2 separate regions of the Homo sapiens genome follow, and region 1 is linked to region 2. The links come from fine-mapping of genetic effects on gene expression. A gene starts in region 2. The other region holds a variant in brackets. All regions are shown on one strand. Distances are from middle to middle. Region 1 has its middle 16 kb from the start of DNAH17. Region 2 holds the start of SCAT1 (S-phase cancer associated transcript 1).

The links. PIP is the estimated chance that this variant, and not a neighbour inherited with it, causes the effect.
Region 1: its variant is fine-mapped to the expression of SCAT1 in lung (GTEx, PIP 0.94).

The regions. Positions count from the first base shown.
Region 1 is chr17:78,588,065-78,598,940 of GRCh38, forward strand. No RefSeq gene overlaps it. Among named protein-coding and RNA genes, the nearest start is that of DNAH17, 16 kb to the left of the region's middle. RefSeq lists enhancers at 224-736, 737-1,249. The variant A/G (reference allele first, on the strand shown) is at 4,538.
Region 2 is chr17:78,626,126-78,637,001 of GRCh38, forward strand. It overlaps SCAT1 (S-phase cancer associated transcript 1), which reads right to left and starts at 5,932. Exons shown (of 5, transcript NR_110849.1): 1 at 5,865-5,932; 2 at 3,907-4,305; 3 at 1,793-1,910. RefSeq lists enhancers at 1-349, 5,766-6,267.

The DNA of each region.
Region 1 (10,876 bases), 38 kb before region 2:
AGCTACTAGGGAGGGTGAGGCAGGAGAATCACTTGAACCCAGGAGATGGGGGTTGTGGTGAGCTGAGATTGCACCACTGCACTCCAGCCTGGGCAACAGAGTAAAACTCCATCTCCCAAAAAAAAAAAAAAAGAAGAGAAAGAAAATTGTATTTCTCAATAGCCTGCCCTTTTCCCTTTAAATATTGAAGCCCTCAAAATCATCTTCAGAGAAAAGCATAGACCTGCCTCCCAGGCATATGTCCTTAATTTTGGCAAATAAACCTCCTGAAATGATTGAGACTCACCTGGCTCATTTTCCTTGATTGACAGGCACTTGCCTCATGTTTCTCTTCCTGGCTGGGTGTTGGATTGGGGGCAGGGGAGTGGGTGTCTGGCTTCAGTCCTCCCTGCCAGGGCCACCAGCCGAGGATGCCCTTCACTCTTTTTTTGCTTCTGTCAGTCACAGCCCACATCGAGGTAGGGCCGGGATGAGCTGAGAGAACTCAGTCATCCCCAGGGGCAACACTTCCTCCCAGCTGAATGAACTTGGAAGGCAAATTTCATGAAGACATTACCCATCATTAAAGAAAATCGCAGGTCCCTTTCCCGCTGCCGGGGATGCTTGCAGACAGGAGAGGCCGGGCCGTCTGTGTTTCATCAGGCTCCCCACCTCCCTCTGTCTACTGGGGCCCTGCCGCGTGTCCTCCTGCTGCGTTCCCAGCAGAGGAACAGGAGGTGGCCTTTGTCCTCCTGCCCAGGCGCGTCCTTACCCTTGAAGTTGGGTGGAAAGGGAGGGCTGGGCCTGAGCAGTCAGGCTGGCCAGGTAGACCACCCTTCCCTTCAGGGGCAGGACACCGCGGCCAGAGAAGTCCCTGCCAGCCAGGTTTCCAAAGGTCACAGCAAGGGTACACGCTGTGGAGACCTGGGAACCTTTTCTCTTTAGGAGTCTCTGCACACAGGTCCTAAGGGTGAGGCCCCCAACAAAGCACAGAAATGCATGGATTCCAAGCCATCCAGGCTGGGAAACAGTGTGGGGTCTCTGGAGGAGTTTGCCTCCGCCCACACAGGGAGACGTACCTGGGGCACAGGCAGTGGTCACAGACACACCTCATGTAGACTCAAAGAGATAGGGACAGACCATATACGGGATGTTGCAACCGGGGAAAGAGCCGAACTTGATCCCAACACCACCCTGCAGATGGGGACTTACAGCCATGAGCAGCGAGGGGTCAGTGGATGGAAAATTGCTAAGAGGAGAACTTCAAGTGGGGGTTCTTGCTAAAGGCAGACCAAGGACCTGGATATGGCCGGGGGAAAGCAGAGGTGCTGAGGAACTCGATCAGATTTCAAGGGTTGGGGTGACTCAGTAGGATTCTCTGCTGAGACTGGCGTGGGCAGGCTGAGGACCGGGCTCGAGAACGGAGGCCTTATCAAAAGAGGGTTCAGTGGGCCAGGCACAGTGGCTCACGCCTGTAATCCCAGCACTTTGGAAGGCCGAGGCGGGTGGATTGCCTGAGGTCAGAAGTTTGAGACCAGCCTGGCCAACATGGTGAAACCCCGTCCCTACTAAAATACAAAAATTAGCCAGGCGTGGTGGCAGGCGCCTGTAATCCCAGCCACTTGGGAGGCTGAGGCAGGAGAATCGCTTGAACCAGAGAGGCAGAGGTTGCAGTGAGCCGAGATCGCACCACTGCACTCCAGCCTAGGTGATAGAGTGAGATTCTGTCTCAAAAAAAAAAAAAAAGAGGGCTCAGCAGAGTCTGCCTGAAGTTGGGTCAAGGAGGGAGCCTTTTGTCAGGCCTCAGCATAATAAGGGGGTTCTGAATCTGGGGGAGGAGGAAAGGTAGATTCTCAGGACTCCAGGCAGGGCGCGTCCCTCCCCTGGGGCGTGGTCTGGCTCCTGGGGGCTGGTGTCTGTTCTCAGCCCTCAGTAGGAACCCTTCCACTTCACATGGGCTGCCTGTGATGTCAGCATCGCCAAGCCCTGTCCCTCCTGCCATCTCCCCATCCGCACATTCTGTGTCCACCGCAAGCACCTTCAGGTGGCATCGGTCCATCTGACGCGTGCTGAGAAGGCAGTCCGGCCCGCAGGCATGGGGCCGCCCCTCCCTGCCCTTCCTCTCTGCTCGGTCATGCTGTGATTATGCTGAGAACTGACAGCACCTGCAACCTGCATTTTTATTAATTAGATAACACAAGTCTTCTATAATTTTCATTTTTATTCCCCACCCCCCCCCACCGCCACTCCACTTAGAGCGGAGGTTCTCAGAGTGGGGCCCCTGGGCCAACAGCCTCTGCATCAGCTGGATTCTCGTTGGGATCACAGAGCCCGGGGCCACCCCAGATTGTGGGGCAGCAATCTGTATTTCACAAGCCCCCAATGGACTCTGATGCAGGCTAAGGTTTGAGAGTCACTGATTTAGAGTAAAATTTTGGTTTCTGTTTTAAGCAAATTCACTGAAAGTAGCCAGTTATCCTTGTTAAAAAGGCTTTCAGTGTTTCCCTATTTTAGGGGTCTTGCTGTCTGCCCAGGCTGGAGTGCAGTGGCACAATCATACCTCGCTGCAATCTTGACATCTGGGGCTCAAACCAACCTCCCACCTCAGCTCCTGAGTAGCTGGGACTACAGGGGCACACAACCATGCCTGGCTTTTTTTATTTTTTAATTTTTTGAAAGAAAGGGTATTTCTATATTGCCCAGGCTGGCCTTGACTCAAGCAATCCTCCCATCTCAGCTTCCCGAGTAGCTGAGACTACAGGCCCTTGCCACCACGCCTGGCTAATTTTATTTTTTGTAGAGACAAAAAAGTAAGACTCACGTTGTTGCCCAGGCTGGTCTCAAGCTCCTGGTCTCAGACAATCCTCCTGTCTCGGCCTCCCGAAGTTCTCGGCGCGCAGGTATGAACCCCCACGCCCAGCCTTCCCTGCTTTATGGTCATTCACACCTGAGGCCTGAGTTGCCTTCAACAAGCCCCACGGGTTACCTGAGTGGCAGGTGTAACTTAAGGCTGAGGTTCTCTGCTTAGCCACGGGCAGAATCACCTGGGACGCTTTGAGAATTAAGGGCACTGGAGGGTCGGGGCCAAGCGTGGAGGCTTTCAAAGCACCTGTTTGGGTCCAAGTACACACAGGGCGGGGAATCTTTGCTCCATGGGTCCACGCTCCTCAGAAGTGACCCTTGCTGCTCTGGGTCTATTTCAGCAGAACCATCACCAACCAAACAAATGAGAAATCAGGGCGGATTGGACTCAGAGACAAATGCTTTCCGGTGAGCAGCCAGGCGCACAGCAGAACGATAGAGGAGCGCTCAGAACTCGGGAGTACCTGTCACCTCTGCCATGGTGGCTGGGCTCGCTCACGGTGACTGTTTCCCTAGCAGGAGAGACCCTGGCTGTGACCCTGCAGCCTGTGCCTCCTGCTGCTGCAGGGAGAGAGGGAGTGCCCGGCGCCTACCTGGGCTTTTCCGGGCCGTCCGTCCGCTCATCATGCCCCTTGCCCCAGCTCACTTCACATCTTCGCTGGGTGGGGATTCAAGGACAGGCTGGGCTCTAGGAGGTCAATGGTCCCTCCCCGGGCTTCCAGCATGTTGTAGCTCAACTTCTACCAGACATCTGGAAATACCAAATTTCTTTCCTTAAAGGGACAAAGACCCCTTTTCTTTGGAATATATATATATATATATATATATATATATTTTATTTATTTATTTTTTTTGAGACAGAGTTTCACTCTTGTGCAGGCTGGAGTGCAATGGTACAATCTCGGCTCACTGCAATCTCCGCCTGCCGGGTTCAGGTGATTCTCCTGCCTCAGCCTCCAGAGTAACTGGAATTACAGGTGTGCACCACCACACCCAGCTAATTTTGTATTTTTTGTAGAGACGGGGGGGGGGTTTCACCATGTTGGCCAGGCTGGTCTCGAACTCCTGACCTCAGGTAATCCACCTGCCTTGGCCTCCCAAAGTGCTGGGATTACAGGCGTGAGCCACTGTGCCCGGCCCTGGAATATATTTTTTTAAACCCTAAACTGTATTATAGAATAATCTCTTCCTCAGTGACTTGGTTTATAATATATTGGGAAAAAAAAAACTCTATGATGAAAATCAAGTGCTGTAAGTTAAATATCTGAGTCCAAATGATGTCAAAAAGCGGCAAGGCACTGGGCTTCCCCCATTCAGAGAGCACCCTCCCCTTCCTGCCCCGCGCTTCTGTTGACCTTTGGTCCTGTTTGCAGGAAGCTCTCAAGTTTAACTCTGAACTTGAAGGGAAGGAAGGGAGTGAACCACATGGCCCTGGGGTCGGGGCCTCTGGCCGAAGGGCGCTCAGCTTGGTCTGTAAAATGAAATGTGTTTTGAATGTCATGAGTCAGGAAAAAAGAATTTGAGCGCAGTCTGGAAATGAAATTTCCTGCCTGTGGTTTGACTCACGTCTGTCTGTCTCGAAATCTACCCCAAGGACATTTATTCCACTGTGACAGGGCTCATCTCTGAGGAGCACCAGACTCCTGCGGTGGGGAGGGAAGATTATCCGCGCTGCAGAGACTAGCTGGCCTCCGGA[A/G]GCCGCCTCCTGACCCCGCGTCAAGCACCGCGGTGGATGGCGCAACCCAGCTTTGGGAATTAATTACCCAAGGCGCGTTTCCGTGCAGTCTGGCCTCCCTCCCTGAAGGCTTCTTAAGCAATAGGGAACTAGGAGGAGTTGAGACCAGCCTGGCAAACGTGGTGAAACCCCATCTCTATTAAAAATACAGATGGGGGCAGGGCGCGGTGGCTCACGCCTGTAATCCCAGCACTTTGGGAGGCCGAGGCAGGTGGATCACTTGAGGTCAGGAGCTTGAGACCAGCCTGGCCAACATGGTGAAACCCCGTCTCTACTAAGAATACAAAAATTAGCCGGGCGTGCATGCGCCTGTAATCCCAGCTACTGGGGAGGCTGAGGCAGGAGAATCGCTTGAACCCAGGAGGCGGAGATTGCAGTGAGCTGAGATCACACCACTGCACTCCAGCCTGGGTGACAGAGGGAGACTCTCTCTCAAAAAAAAAAAAAAAAAAAAAAAATTATAGATGGGAACGAGGAATCGCAACAGTCCTTACTGCCTTTCTTGTCTTGCCTGGCTAGTGCTAAAGTATGTTGAGGAAGGAAAAAAATTATTTTTTACGATTTCAAAGTTAGTTTTATTTAGAAGTTTTATTGAGGACTAGAGACCGACCACAGCCTGGGAGAAGTCTTTTAGAGGGGGTTTGTCGGACTGTTTTGAAATAGTGTTTTAATTTACAGTTTATATACAGGTAGTGGGGGTTTAGTAGGTGTAAAATTATATTAAAGCTTGGGTATAAGAGTATATCTGGTTGTAGATTATAGAATAATTATTAAAAATGAAAAATAAAATCCTGAGCCTCACCACCAACTGAATGAACCCCCTCTTGGCCAAGTTGACCACATAGTCACCTGAAAAATTGAATTCCCAGCCCGATCTCCCAGGGAGGTGAGGCATACCTGCTTATATCCCCTCTCTCTCTTTCTCTTTGTTTTTTTTGTTTCTGTTTTTTTTTTTTTTTTTTTTTTTGAGACGGAGTCTCGCTCTGTTGCCCAGGCTGGAGTACAGTGGCGCGATCTTGGCTCACTGCACCCTCCACCTCACAGGTTCAAGCGATTCTCCTGCCTCAGCCTCCTGAGTAGCTGGGATTACAGGCGCCCTCCACCACACCTGGCTACTTTTTTGTATTTTTAGTAGAGACGGGGTTTCACCATGTTAGTCAGGATGGTCTCTATCCCCTCTCTTTTGGAGTTTAGGCACAGATGACCAGCACTAAGGTTAGAAAAGAGATCAGAAGTCTGGCAGAAGAGACTCCTGTGGCAATGAGATACCATGTTCCAACTTGGCCCTGGTGTAGTATCACATGACAGATGGCAGACCCTGAAGGAAATCAAAATATTTTACCCCACAATATATTTTTTTCTTTTTTTTGGAGACAGGGTCTCGCTCTGTTGCCCAAGCTGGAGTGCAGTGGCACATCTCAGCTCACTGCAACCTCCGCCTCCTGGGTTCAGATGATTCTCCTGCCTCAGCCTCTCGAGTAGTTGGGATGACAGGCGCCCACCACCACACCCAGCTAATTTTTGTATTTTTAGTAGAGACGGGGTTTCACCATGTTGGCCAGGCTTGTCTCGAACTCCTGACCTCAGATGATCCGCCCGCCTAGGCCTCCCAAGGTGCTGGGATTACTGGCGTGACATATGTTGAAACGGCCCTACAAAGCTGTCTTTTGTGAGGGAAATTTGCATTCTGTAGAAAAGCACCATTAATGCAGCCAGGTCTTTCCCAGATCTAGGAAATACTAAGAGTCTGACACGTTTAAGGTCTGAAAAGAGACATTGACCACCTATTTCCTCTGAAGGCTGTTACCTGGAGATTTCATCTATACAACAAGAACCTTGGTCTCCACAACCCCCCTTATCTTAACTCAAGCATTTCTTTCTACTGACCTCAAGACTTTAGCCAAAGCTTAACTCTTTCAACCAATTGCCAATTGGAAAATCTTTGAATCTTCCTGTGACCTGTAAGCCCTCCAACTCCCACTTCAAGGTATCCCACCACTTTAGGCTGAACCAATGTATACGCTCCATGTACTGATTTATGTCTTTGCCTGTAACTTTGGTCTCCCTAAAATGCACTGTAAACCAAAAATACAATTCTAAGCTCCCCCATCATCTGAATGGACCTCTCCTCTTGGCCAAGGGCTTTCCAAAGTCAACCTGAAAAACAGTTCAACACTTTAAACATTTTAGCAAAACTATTACTTCGTTATGTTCCAAATTATTCCATTCAATTCAGAAGATATTTTCTGAGAGTGCCTATTACACGGAAAAGGTAATCACAGAATCTGTTACACAAACTGGGATACCTTTTTTTTAAGAGACAGAGTCTCGCTATGTTGCCTAGGCTGGTCTGGAACTCCAGCCTAGAAGGGGATGTTGGACATGCCTCATTATGTCCTCTTCCCTTTGGAACTCAGGCACAGCTGACCAGCAGTAACATCAACACAGAGACCCTAAGACTGATAGAACAGACTCTTTAGATCTGATAAGAAACATTTACCATCTATTCTCTCTGAAGCCTGCCTCCTGGAGGCTTCGTCTGTGTGGTAAAACCTTGGTCTCCACAACCCCTTATCTTAACCCAGACATTCCAGGTCTTTAGAGAATAGCTCTTTAAACCAATTGCCAATCCGAAAATCTTTGAATCTACCTATGACCTGGAAGTCCCCCCAACCCCCACCCCGACTTCCAGTTGTCCCGCCTTTCTGGACCCAACCAATGTACATCTTACGTGTAATGACTGATGCCTCATGTCTCCATAAAATGTATAGAACCAAGCTGGAACCCAATCACCGTGGACACACGTTCTCAGGATCTCCGGGGGCCACTGGTCACTCATATTTGGCTCAGAATAAATCTCTTCAAATATTTCACACAGTTTGACTCTTTTTTGTCAACAGTATAAAACCAAATTGTAACTTCACCACCCTGGGCACACTTTCTCAGGAACTCTTGAGACAGTTCTGCCACTGTGGTTGCTCATGTTGGCTCAGGATAAGCATCTCTGAATATTTTACAGAGTTTGGTTTTCTCATCAACATTGTGACTCTCATCAGTGGTTACCATGTGTGTAGGAAACAACAAGGGGTCAGGTTTTTTTTTTTTTTTTTTTTTTTTGAGATAGAGTTTCATTCTTGTTGCCCAGACTGGAGTGCAATGGCACGATCTCAGCTCACGGCAACCTCCGCCTCCCGGCTTCAAGCAGTTCTCCCACCTCAGCCTCCCGAGTAGCTGGGATTGTAGGCATGCGCCACCACACCCGGCTGATTTTGTACTTTTAGTAGAGATAGGGTTTCTCCATGTTGGTCAGGCTGGTCTCGAACTCCTGACCTCAGGTGATCTGCCTGCCTCGGCCTCGGCCAAAAATCTGTAAACTCTGGGTTCTCTGAGTTTGCTGAAACGCAAAACCTCTGAGCTCACAGCTGCTCACTCAGCCCAAAGTGCTGGGATTACAGGTGTGATCCACTGCGCCTGGCCAGGTCAGGTATTTTTTAAGGAATATAGTGACTTAGGTAAGAGATGTTGAAGGGGCAGGTGTTTTGTTTTGTCTTTTAAATATTTTTGTGGAGAGTTACATGTCAGCACAGAGTCAGGGGCTATGCGAAATTATGCTCACAAGCAGAAATGAGTAAACACGGCTTTTTATATTTATTTCATTTTGTAAGTTTTCTCTTTTGCTCATAAATCCACCATCCAGTTATGTTTATAAGACCAGTGTTGACTGTCTCATGGTTAGGAAGCTTCTTTTTTAGGAAGACATGTAATTTGTACTTGTAAGGAATGAGTATTGGGCCCAGTGTGTATATTTGTCTATTTATCGGAAAATATGTTTTGGATTATATCTATTTTTTAATTAATATGAGCTGGCGTTTTTTTTTCTGAGACAGGTTCTCACTCTGTCACCCAGGCTGGAGTGGAGTGATATGATCGCAGCTCACTGCAGCCTTGACCTCCCGGGCTCAAGTAATCCTTCCACCTCAGCCTCCTGCATAATGGGACTGCAGGCACATGCCACCATGATCAGTGTGACACACTGGCCTCCTGGCCACATCTGCACTGTAGCAAACGGCTTCCTGAGAGAGGAAAATGCAAACTCCTCATCAGGCTGCGAACTCTCTGTGGCTGGAAATTTGTAAACTCTGAGTTCTCTGAGTTTGCTGAAATGCAAAAACTCTGAGCTCACAGCTGCTCACAGGGATTTTTGAGGATTTTGCAAGGGGCTAGGTCTGCCCCTAACCCTTCCTTCAAGTTCACAGCCTACCTTAGGGGTGGCAGAGGTCAGCAAACCTCCCACAAAGGGCCAGGGTGTACTTTAGGCTTTGAGAGCCAGATGATCTCTGCGGCAGCATTTCAACTCTGACACTGGAGTTCTACAGCAGTCACAGACAATATGTAAGTGAATAGGCGTGGCTGTGTGCCAATAAAACTTTACTTAAAACAGGCAGAGGGCTAGATTTGGGTCCGCTTCAGTCACCCCAGTAATTGGGAGAGGCAAACTCCCATTTCTAAACTATTCCTCTCTGTTGCCTTCTCAGAAACTTTTTGCCTGCTATTGTCCCTACCCCCACTTTCTCCTCGTCTACCAGCTCGCTGCCACCAAAATGCAAATATGCCATAGAATCCCGCATCTCAAAAACAAGACAAGGCCACCTCCCTCCAGCTGCCACCCCCCTCCAGCTGCCACCCCATCCCTCTGCTTCAAGTAGCGGATTCAAAAAGCCCATAGCCCACCCACTCCTCAGCCGCCTCTGTGGCTTTGACCTCCATCCTCACCTTCTCTAAACCAGCTCTCATCAAAGTCCCATACAGATCCCTCCAACCATTTTTGCCTGGGGCAGTGTGTGTAGCCAGGCCAGCAGGCCCAGGGGGCAGGTTAGGGAGGTTCAGAGCACAAGGAAACAGGAAGAGGAAAACCTTACTTAGCCTTTCAAAATGTTTACTGACCTCATAGAAAGCCCTAAAAAAGGCAAATGGTTAGTTACCGGGCTGGCTGGGCCTTGCGTGCTGGCATCTGTTGGTTTACAGCATGACTGGTATTTAGAATGACCTGGAAGCTCCCAACTTCGAATTGTCCCAAACCTTTCCAGACCGAACCAATGTATACCTTATATGTATTGATTGATGTCTTATTTACCCCCAGAAGTTCTATAGGTTATACACCTCCCATTTTGTCAGTTGCTGAGACTATTGAATTGCAGAAAATGTACACCTCATGTCTCGCAAACCTATGAATCGTCACAGTGGTTGCTCCGTGGTCTTTGCCTCGTATCTGTTGTCTAAACCCAAGCCCCAATGGGGACATATGTTCTTATCCAAGATGTCCATTTTCCTCACAAGGCATAAGCCAGAGATCTCTGAAATCCACACAGCCAAGCTCCTCAGGGTCCATGCTCAGCCATCCACATCACAGCATAGCATCTGCGGCAGAATCACTGAAGCAAGAGCGGCAGTTTTGGGAGGGTCAGAATCTTGTCACTTCCAGCCACGTGACTCCTAAACCACGATTTCTAATCTTGTGGCTCATGTTAGTCCTACAAAGGCAATCTAGTCCCCAGGCAAGAAGGTCTGCCTTGGGAAGGGGCTGTTATCGTCTTTGTTTTAAACCATAAATCATAGAGTTATAAACTATAAACTAAGTTTCTCCCAAAGCTAGTTCAGGAATGAGCTTTGGAATGAGCTCATTCCACCCACGGCCAAGAATGAGCAAGGACAGCTTGGAGGTTAGAAGCAAGATGGGGTCGGTTAAGTCAGATCTTTCACTGTCTCAGTCATCAGTTTGCAAAGGCAGTTTCGACACCACACTGTCACGATTACTGGAGCTTTATAGTAAGTTTTAAAAATGGAGCAGTGGAGGTCTTGCAATTGTGTTCTTTTTTTTCTTTCTTTCTTCTTTTTTTTTTTTTTTTTTTTTGAGACGGAGTCTCACTCTATCACCCAGGCTGGAGTGCAGCGGCGCGATCTCAGCTCACTGCAAGCTCCACCTCCCGGGTTCATGCCATTCTCCTGCCTCAGCCTCCCGAGTAGCTGGGACTACAGGCGCCCGCCACCACGCCCGGCTAATTTTTTTTTTTTTTGTATTTTTAGTGGAGACGGGGTTTCACCGTATTAGCCAGGATGGACTCGATCTCCTGACCTCGTGATCCGCCCGCCTCGGCCTCCCAAAGTGCTGGGATTACAGGCATGAGCCACCGCGCCTTGGCCGTGTTCTTCTTTTCAAAGGCGTTTTGGTTAGCCTAGGTCCTTCACATTTCCATAGCAATCTTAGAATCAGATTGTGAATTCCTATTTTTAAAAAATTAT
Region 2 (10,876 bases):
AAAAAATCATGTCCGTACACTTAAAATGTTAAGATGGCAGATTTTATGCTACATATATTTTACCACAATTTTAAGAAATTCATGATATACTCAAACCCATTGAATTGTACACTTTAAATGGGTGAATTACGTGGTATGTAAATTATGTCAATAAAGTTATTTATTTTTATTTTTATTTTTTGAGACAGTCTTGCTCTGTCGCCCAGGCTGGAGTGCAGTGGCATGAACTTGGCTCACTGCAAGCTCCACCTCCCAGGTTCACGCCATTCTCCTGCCTTAGCCTCCCCAGTAGCTGGGACTACAGGCGCCCGCCACCATGTCTGGCTAATTTTTTTGTATTTTTAGTAGAGATGGGGTTTCACCATGTTAGCCGGGATGGTCTTGATGATCTCCTGACCTCATAATCCACCTGCCTCGGCCTCCCAAAGTGCTGGGATTACAGGCATGAGCCACCGCACCAGGCCTAAAGCCATTTTTTTTTTAAAAGCTATGTCTAAGCCCTAACCCCAGCCCCTGTGAATGTGAATCCTTGGAAAAACGATTCACCAAGTCCTAACTCCTAGTACCTGTGAATCCTTGGAAAAAGGACCTTTGCCGATGTAATTAAGTTAAGGATTTTGAGATGAGATTATATGAGATTAGGGCATGCCCCATATCCAGTGACTGGTGTCCTTATCAGAGAAAGGCAGAGGGAGACTTGAGACACAGGCCCAGAGGAGAAGTTCATGTGAGATGGAGCAGAGACTGGAGTGACGCCGCCACATACCAAGGAACACCTGGGGCCACCGGAAGCTGGAAGAGGCAGGTAGGACCCTCGCTGGGAGCCTTCGGAGAGAGAGTAGCCCTACTGACACCTGGATCCTGGGCTTCTGACCTCCAGGACGCGAGAGAATCAGCTGCTGTTGCTTTCAGCTGCCCAATGCATGAACATTTGTTCCAGGAGCCCCAGGAAGCCGACCCCATCAGAACGCCAAGGACCGGGGTGGAGAGTCCCACCGTGTCTGAGCAGAGAGTCTGAGTGCTCATAGAATGGGAAGACGCTGCCCTGTATCAAGCCAGGGACCTGATGGGGGCTGGAGAGCGGGCTTGGACATGTGCCTGCTGCCATCGGAGCCGTCTGGGGCCACCACCCAGAGGACAATGTTAAGGATGAAAATTCAGGGCCTCCAATTACACAGAAATCAACATAGCCATGAAATGATAAGGACACCGCAGCTTCCTCTTTTAAGAAGACACAAGGCAGCCGGGCGCAGTGGCTCACGCCTGTAATCCCAGCACTTTGGGAGGCTGAGGCGGGCAGATCACCTGAAGTCAGGAGTTCGAGACCAGCCTGGCTAACATGGAGAAACCCCCTAAAAATGCAAAACTATCTGGGTGTGGTGGCACGTGCCTGTAACCCCAGCTATTCAGGAGGCCGAGGCAGGAGATTCACTCGAACCCGGGAGGTGGAGGTTGTGGTGAGCGGAGATCATGCCATTACACTCCAGCCTGGGCGACAAGAGCGAAACTCTATCTCAAAAAAAAAAAAAAAAAAAAAAAGACGACACAAGGCAGTTCCAGGGGCAGAGATTTGGAATATTTTGAATAAAGGGGGAAAAGGTAAGAAGATACTACACAATGAGGGCTTTAGAAGAATAGTAAGAATTTTTGAGGCTGCGTGCAATGGCTCACACCTGTAATCCCAGCACTTTGGGAGGTCGAGGTGGTGGATTATTCGAGCTTGGGCAACATAGCAAGACCTCATCTCTACTAAAGGTTTTTTAAAAAATTAGCCGGGTATGGTAGCACATACCTGTAGTCCCAGCTACTGAGGAGGCTGAGGTGGGAGGATCACCTAAGCCTGTGAGTTCGAGGCTGCAGTGAGCCAAGATCATGCCACTGAACTCCAGCCTGGGCAACAGAACGAGAGCCTGTCTCAAAAAAAAAAAAAAAAAAAAAAAAAAAAAAAGTAAGAATTTTTGGAATTCAAATGTGAATTTTTAATCTTTTTAATTTTACGAATCATAGAGAAAAGAATCTGAATGAAGATCTGGAAATACAATTTCCAGTCTCTGGCTTTGCTTGGCCTGATCATTTCCAAACAAACCTTAAGACTTGCTGTTTTGCCCAAATTCTTCCCTAGTCTAATCGTCAGGCAGATGTGACCGTGGGGAACTGGCTGTCCCCGCATCAGCAGCAGGCAGCGGCATTACCTGAGGTATTTCCTTCCTGGCAGTTGATCATAGAAGTTCATGGTTCCATCTGTGCTAAAGAATTCATCCCCAGATCCGAAAACCAAGAGCTCTGGTTTGGTCTGATAATGTGTCATATGGTCTTCAGAAGAAAGCAGAACAATCGGTCATTCCAAAGGTCATTTGGAAGAACCAAGGTCATTCAGCTTCTAGTTGTGAGTGGAGGCTGCAGAGGGACCCTAGGAGGCGTGGGACCCTAGAGGAACCCCAGGGATGAGTGGGTGTGGAAGGGGCGCCCTGGTCAGTCAATAGTCAACACAAGAGCACTATTCTAGTCACAAGTGGGCCCAGGAGGCGTTGAGACTGGTGGCCGGGGGCGCCTGCTCTCCTGCCCACCAACCAGGTGACCTGTTCAAGCCACTGAACCTGCCTGGGCCTTAGTCCCACAGCGCTGGGGTGGAGGCAACAGGCGTCGCTGACTCTGGGTTATTGGGGTGGCGGGGTTAGATCAACTGCCAACCTGGCGAACGCCCTGGGACCACGCATGGCTGGTAAGGAACTCTAGAGGGGATTTTTCATCCTTATTATTATGACCGGCGCCCCTCCATGCTGAGTGATGTGCTGAGACTGTGCACGCCACCCTCTGCCCCCTTCATTTCAAAAATGCAGAACGGAGGCTGCAGGGGGCCACCTGCCCAGTGTGCACAGCTCATGAATGACCGGATGAGGTGACACCACCATCTGTCACCCCAGGGCCAGGCCTCTGTCCTCCCCAGAAACTTGTCCTCGCCCACTCCACCTGCAAGTCCTCTAGGGGCTGAGCACTACACAGGAACACGTGCAGATTCCAGCACCCAGAGGTCCTTCACACCTAGCCACAGGGCCTCTGGCAGCCTCGGCCATCCTCTCTGCGTGCCTGAGGCGGCTGCGCTGAGCAGTGGGGGACCCAGGAAAGGTCACGGCTCCCCCAGCACATCTGACACACCTCCCGCCGGGCCAGCTGCTGGCTTCAGCAAGCAGACGTCCCCTTCCTATGGAAAAGCCCATGAAAGCTGATTTGAAATATCTGAGCAGCTGTTTGAAGGACGTGGATCAGCCCTGTTCAGCGGCCTGAGCGGAGAGCGGGGCCAGAGGTACAAGCCTGGGACGGCCCGCAGGCTCTGGGAGACACAAGTCTTCTCAGACTTAGGCCTCATGGGACCCCAGGGGCCTGGTCAGCTGGGTTCCCCAAGGGCTCACCCACAGAGAGCCTCCGTTCTCAGTGTCGCTGTGGATGACCAACACTAAAACCCCCAAGCCCAGACCGCACCTCGTTCCCGCTCACCTCGGAATCCCTGGAGAAATCAGACATCAGCCCTTTAAAAGTTCCCCAGTGACTTTAACGTGCAACCCAGGTGGGGCGTCACTAGGCCAGGTGTCACCCATGTGTGCCCCCAACTGGAGGCCCTCAGTGGGCTTGTTCGAGGGCCTCCAGGCTGGATGTTCGCCCCAGATGGCCCAGATGGCCTATTTTGTGCATTGTCTGGCTGTGTGGAAACAGAACAGCACCATAGTGACATCTAGCCCGGATGTGGGCATGGCCCACCGACCACTGACCGCCTACGTCGTTCTTCCACCCCGAGCGCCCGCATATCCCGTTCCGTTCACCTCCCACTGGGGTCAACACTCCCTTCACAGCCTCCATCTTCCCCGGGGCAGTCCCATTGCTTTGGAGACTTCAAAAAATTGTACTCACAAAAGGGGTCGACATGTTCTATCTTCTCCTGGAAGCGGGGTGTGTCCTTGTTCCCAGTGACATTCAGCGTGTGCAGGGCCCGTACGCATGCACTCTGGCCTCCAAAGCACCTGTCGTTGTGGAGATTCCACAGCAGGCAGGGTGGAGATGGTGAGCCGCAGACATCACACCTGCCCCAGGTCAGGCCGAGGCTGCTCATCAGGAGCCCCGAGACCTCGAATGCAACGTCTTCAGATCCCAATTCCCTCCCTGCATGGAGCAGAACAGTGTCTCTCAAAAACTCACGCCCACGAGAAGTCTCAGAATGTGGCTTTTAGTAGAAATAGGGTCTCTGCAGATGTCTTTCATTAAGCTGAGGCCATATTGAGTGAGGGTGGATCCCAATCCAGTAACTGGGGTCTGTATAAGGAGAGAGAACAGAGGCACATGAACGGAAGGTCAAGCGACAACGGGTGCAGGGATGGCAGCCAGGCAGCCACAAGCCAAAGGACGCCCAGGATGGCCAGCAGCCCTGGAAGCCGGGAAAGACAAGGGAGGCTCTTCCCCTACAGCCTGCAGAGGGAGCAGGTCATTATCTGTTAATATCTTGATGTTGCAGTTTGGCCTCCAGAACTGTGAGAAATGTGATGTTGTTTGATGCCACCCAGTTTGTGTTCCTCTATTACAGCAGCCCCGGAGACTAGTAAGTGGGTCCCTGGCAGAGGAAGGGGACAGAGCGTCGAATTCTCCTCCCCGCAGGGAGCCACCTGGGCTCCGAGAAACCCTTGCACCGGCCAGAGGCCATGACACTAATGCTGGAATGTTCTCTGTGAGCGATGAAGCTTTCAACCAGACTCCGCTAGAGAAAAATACCCGACAGAACTGTTTACCCGATTAAATGAAATTAAATTCAGTTTTCTTGTTGCCAAGCAGAAATGAGGCCCTGTCATAGGAATGTCTGAGCAGTTATAAAAATAGGAGTTCATGTTTGCACATAGCTGGTTGAAAACAGAAAATTCACACCTGCTCTAAGAGATAAACAATGCACAGCTGAGCGTTGAACTCACACAAACGAGCCACCATGCACTGCAGAACAGAAACAGAAGAAGACTTAAGAAAAAAGCCAAGATAAATGATCACAGCCAGGCACGGTGGCTCATGCCTGTAATCCCAGCACTTTGGGAGGTTGAAGCAGGCAGATCATTTGAGGTCAGGAGTTCAAGACCAGCCTGACCAACATGGTGAAATCCCATCTCTACAAACAAACAAAGAAACAAACAAAGAAACAAACAAAAAATTAGCTGGGTGTGGTGGCAGGTGCCTGTAATCTCAGCTACTCAGGAGGCTGAGGCAGGAGAATCACTTGAACCTGGGAGGCAGAGGTTGCAGTGAGTGGAGATCACACCACTGGACTCCAGCCTGGGTGACAGAGTGAGACTCCATCTCAAAAAAAAAAAAAAAAAAGATCCTTCCTCCCCAATTCCAACACCCCCCAGGAAAACTCAGTCTACAATTGAATATAAAGCAAAGAACTGGCTGTTTGAAAAGTTCATCAAAACGTGCAAATGTCTGGCAAGATAAATAAAGAAAAACCACAAACATAAACCACGCCAGCCTGGGCAAAAGAGTGAGAAGAGAAGAGGGGAGAAGAGGGGAGAAGAGGGGAGGGGAGAAGAGGAGAGAAGAGGGGAGGGGAGGGGAGAAGAGGAGAGAAGAGGGGAGGGGAGGGGAGAAGAGGGGAAGGGAGAAGAGAGGGGAGGGGAGGGGAGAACGGGAGGGGAGGGGAGGGGAGAAGAGGGGAGAAGAGGGGAGGGGAGGAAAGAAAGAGAGAGAAAAGGAGTGAGGGAGGGAGGGAAGGAAGGAAGGAAACCAAAGGCCAGAGGAGAGCCTGGAGGGGGTCCTGCTCACAGCCTCAGAAGGGATCAACCCTGCAGACACCTGGATATCAGACTTTGGCCTCCAGAACTGTAAGATGGTACCTTTCTGTTGTTAAAGCCAGGGGTCCTCAACCCCTGGGGCCACAGACAGTGCCCTGTCTGGGCCACACAACAGGAAGTGAGCAAACGAAGCTTCATCTGTATTTGCAGCCACTCCTCATCACTCATGTTACCGCAGAACTCCGCCTCCTGTCAGATCAGTGGTGGCATTTGATTCTCAGAGGAGCACGAACGGTATTGTAAACTGCGCATGCGAGGGATCTAGGTTGTGGGCTTTTTTTTTTTTTTTTTTTTTTTTTTTTTGAGACACAGTCTCGCTCTGTCGCCCAGGCTGGAGTGCAGTGGCGCAATCTCGGCTCACTGCAAGCCCCGCCTCCCGGGTTCACGCCATTCTCCTGCCTCAGCCTCCTGAGTAGCTGGGACTACAGGTGCCCACCACCATGCCTGGCTAATTTTTTTGTATTTTTAGTAGAGACAGGGTTTCACCGTGTTAGCCAGGATGGTCTCGATCTCCTGACCTCGTGATCTGCCCTCCTGGGCCTCCGAAAGTGCTGGGATTACAGGCGTGAGCCTCCGAGCCCAGCCCCTGAGCCACCGCGCCCAGCGGTTGTGGACTTCTTATGAGAATCTAATGCCTGATGACCTGTCACCATCTCCATCACCCCCAGATGGGTCTGTCTAGTTGCAGGAAAACAAGCTCAGGGCTCCCACTGATTCTTCATGATAGCGCAGTTGTATAAGGATTTCATTATATATTACAATGTAATGATAATAAAGTACACAATCAATGTAATGTGCTTGAATCATCCTGAAACCATCCCCCACCCCTGCCCCCATCCATGGAAAAAATTTTCTTCCACAAAACTCATCCCTGGTGCCAAAAAGGTTGGGGACTGCTGGTTTGAGCCAAAAACAAAAATCAAAAAAACAAAAACAGGCTGGGCACGGTGGGCGGCTCACACCTGTAATGCCAGCACTTGGGGAGGCCAAGGCGGGCAGGTCACTTGAGCCCAGGAGTTTGAGACCACCCTGGGCAACATGGCAAAGCCCCGTCTCTACTAAAAATACAAAAATTAGCAGGGCGTGGTGGCAGGCACCTGTAATCTCAGCTACTTGGGAGGCTGAGGCACGAGAATCACTTGAACCCAGGAAACGGAGGTTGCAGTGAGCTGAGATCACGCCACTGCACTCCAGCCTGAGCGACAGAGAGAGACTGTCTCAAAAACAAAAACAAACTTCTCCCCCTCTCCCTTCCCCCCAGAGGTCGCCAGGCCAACACCATTTTACCGATTCTGACAAACCTTCCATGAATATATAATTTCCATGTTATTTAAATTACTACAGAACCCCTGAAGAGATTATTTTATCTTTTTTTTTATAGAGATGGGGTCTCACTATATTGCCCAGGCCAGTCTCAAACTCCTGGCCTCTGGCAATTCTCCCGCCTCGGCCTCCCAAAGTGCTGGGATTACAGGCAAGAGGTTATTTTTATAAAGTGAAGGTTTTCCTAGGTTATTTTATAAAAGTGAAGGCTTTGCTAGCAAAGACTGACCAAAGTAGTCAAGGAAAATGAGAGATCAATGTCTCACGGGAAATGAGAGATTCAAGAACCCAAATCAACCATCAGCAAGTGGGCAGTAACTGTCCCTATTAAAAATGATCCTTAGGAGGCTGGGTGCGGTGGCTCACACCTGTAATCCCAGCATTTTGGGAGGCCAAGGTGGGAAGATTGCTTGAGCCCAGGAATTTGAGACCAGCCTGGGCAACATGGTGAAACCCTCTCTCTAAAAAAATAAAAGTGATCCCGGCCAGGTATGGTGGCTCACACCTGTAATCCCAGCACTTTGGGAGGCTGAGGCAGGTGGATCATGAGGTCAGGAGATCGAGACCATCCTGGCTAACACAGTGAAACCCCATCTCTACTAAAAATACAAAAAAATTAGCTGGGCATGGTGGCGGTGCCTGTAATCCCAGCTACTTGGGAGGCTGAGGCAGGAGAATGGTGTGAACCCAGGAGGCAGAGCTTGCAGTGAGCCAAGATCACGCCACTGCACTCCAGCCTGGGCAACAGAGTGAGACTCCATCTCAAAAAAAAAAAAAAAATCCCATGACTCAGTAGGCTTGATTCCAGAACATAAGTTTGGTTCAAATTAAGATATTTACCCACATAAATTGTTATATGAATAAACTAAAAGTGAGAGACCATTTGAACATTTCAGTAACATTTCAATAGCTACTGAAAGGCACTTGATAACATTTAGAAAATGTTCTCACTAAAAAAAGAAATCCTTAGCAAACCAGAAAAACAATGAAACCTGCTTAATGTTATAAAATGTATGTACATATTGAAACCAAAAGCCAAAGGCACTATCATCTTGAGGGATGAAATTCCAGAGGCCTTCCTGGAAGAGGCACTGCCGTCTTGAAGTCCTGTATCCTATGCCCAAGGCCAGGGCCAGAGGGTGTAAATGCTGAAGAAGAAGGGATAAACATGTTCCTGTTGGCCAATGACATGATTAACGAGGAAATCTAGCCTACGTAACTAAAAAATTACCAAACGGATGAGTATTTACACATATGTATCAGTAGTAACCATTTAGAAAACACAAACTTTTAAACTTTCCATTTCAAATAGCTACTAAAAGTAAAAAGAATTTTCAAATAAACTCAACAAATAACAATGCTTGGAGTAGAAAACTGCAGTAATTCCCTGGAGGACAAGGTACCTGAACAAAAGGAGAGATATTTTGTGTTCCTGGGTAGGAAAAATGTAATCATACAAAACATGCCAATTCTTCCATATACAATACAGACCCAATCAGAATTACGTTGCGTTGTTTTCTGTTTATTTGTTTTAACTTAAGTTGAATTTCAAAGTACACTTGGAAGAATGCTTGAAAGAAAATTAGCCAAACATTTTTAAAAAGAAGAATGTTCAGGAAACCTTTCTCTATCAGATATAAAAACAGGCCGGGCACAGTAGCTCATGCCTATAGTCCCAGCTACTTGGGAGGCTGAGGTAGAAGCATTGCATGAACTCAAGAGTTCAAGGTTGCAATGAGCTATGATTGTGCCGCTGCACTCCAGCCTGGGAGACAGAACAAGACGCTGCCTCAAAGAAGAAAATGTACAGTAAGCTCTTGTTATTAAAACTATATGGCAGTGACCAAAGCATAGACAAATGATCAGTGGAAGAAAACTGAAGTTCAGAAAAAGACCCAGGTAGGCTGGGCGTGGTGGCGGGCACCTGTAATCCCAGCTCTTTGGGAGGCCGAGGTGGGCACATCACGAGGTCAGGAGGTCGAGACCATCCTGGCTAACATAGTGAAACCCCGTCTCCACTAAAAATACAAAAAATTAGCCGGGCGTGGTGGCGGGCGCCTGTAGTCCCAGCTACTCAGGAGGCTGAGGCAGGAGAATGGCGTGAACCCAGGAGATGGAGCTTGCAGTGAGCCGAGATCGTGCCACTGCACTCCAGCCTGGGCGACGGAGTGAGACTCTGTCTCAAAAAAAAAAAAAAAAAAAGGATCCAGGTATGTCTGAGAATTTAGCACATGACAAATATAATATTGGAAAGCATGGGGGGATTTACACAATACACAGTGTTGAAATGATTCGGAAAAAATAAAACTAAATAGCTATCTTACTTGATACAAAAAGTTAGAAATAGAATGTCTATATTACTTCCTTTGAGATGGAGTCTTGCTCTGTCACCTAGGCTGGGGTGCAGTGGCACAACCTCAGCCCACTGCAGCCTCCACCTCCCGGGTTCAAGGGATTCTCCTGCCTCAGCCTCCCGAGTAGTTGGGATTACAGTTATAGCCACCATGCCCGGATAATTTTTGTGTTTTTAGTAGAGACACGGTTTCACCACATTGGCCAGGCTGGTCTCGAATTCCTGACCTCAAGCGATCCACCCGCCTCAGCCTCCCAAAGTGCTGGGATTACAGGCGTGAGCCACCGCACCTGGCCCACAACCAAAAACTTAAAAACCTGGCTGTTTACAAAATGAAGACATTATGCCAATCAAAACCAGCCAAACATGAAAGACCAAATATTGCCGGATTCCATTTATATGAGGTATAAATTGACCACCTAGAGGAGTCAAATTCGTAGAGACAGAAAGTAGATTAGCGATTACCAGAGGCCGGGGCAGGGCGGATGGGGAGTGAGTGTTTCGTGGGTGTGGAGTTTCAGTTTGGGATAGAAGAAGTTCTGCAGGTGGATGGTGGCGGCAGCTGCACAACAACGTGAATGGACTGAATGCCCAGGATAGTGCACTTAAAATGGTAAAAGTGGCCAATTTTATGTTATGTATATTTTAACAGAATTGTTTAAACCTGGCTGCTGATTTATATTGAGATAAATTCTACTTATTTATATTAAAAACTGTCATATTTATTTTTTTGACTAAGTTTTCAGAATAAATTACATAAAATAAGTGAAATCACTGGATTCAATTACTGGCCCGGGAGACAATGGCGGGCCACACTACCCAAGGACGCCTTGAGGTTCGAGATTTGCCCTAATAAATTTCCTGTTTGGTGAAAAAGCTAAACAGGTGAGTAGGCACAGGGTGAAGAAATGCAAGTGAAGATGAGAGGGGAGGAAATATGCCAAAGTGAAGAAATATACTAAACAGTGCTTTTGGATGATAATCTAGGAACAATCTAGGAACTCCAGCTCTCATCTTGATGTAGTTTAACCAATAACTTGGTTTTGGAGCCAAGGTAATGACTCAATCATCCACGGCAGCCAGGAGCCAAGCTGTCAACCCTCATTGCAAAAAAAGCACAGAAAACCAAATATCAAGCGTGGCCTCAAAAAGAATGAGGGGGCTGGGCGTGGTGGCTCATGCCTGTAATCCCAGCACTTTGGGAGGCCGAGGCAGGTGGATCACGAGGTCAGGATTTCAAGACCAGCCTGGCCAATATGGTGAAACCCCACCTCTGCTAAAAACACAAAAATTAGCTGGCATGGTGGCGCGCACCTGTAGTCCCAGCTCCTCAGGAAGCTGAGGCAGAAGAATTGCTTGAACCCAGGAGGCAGAGACT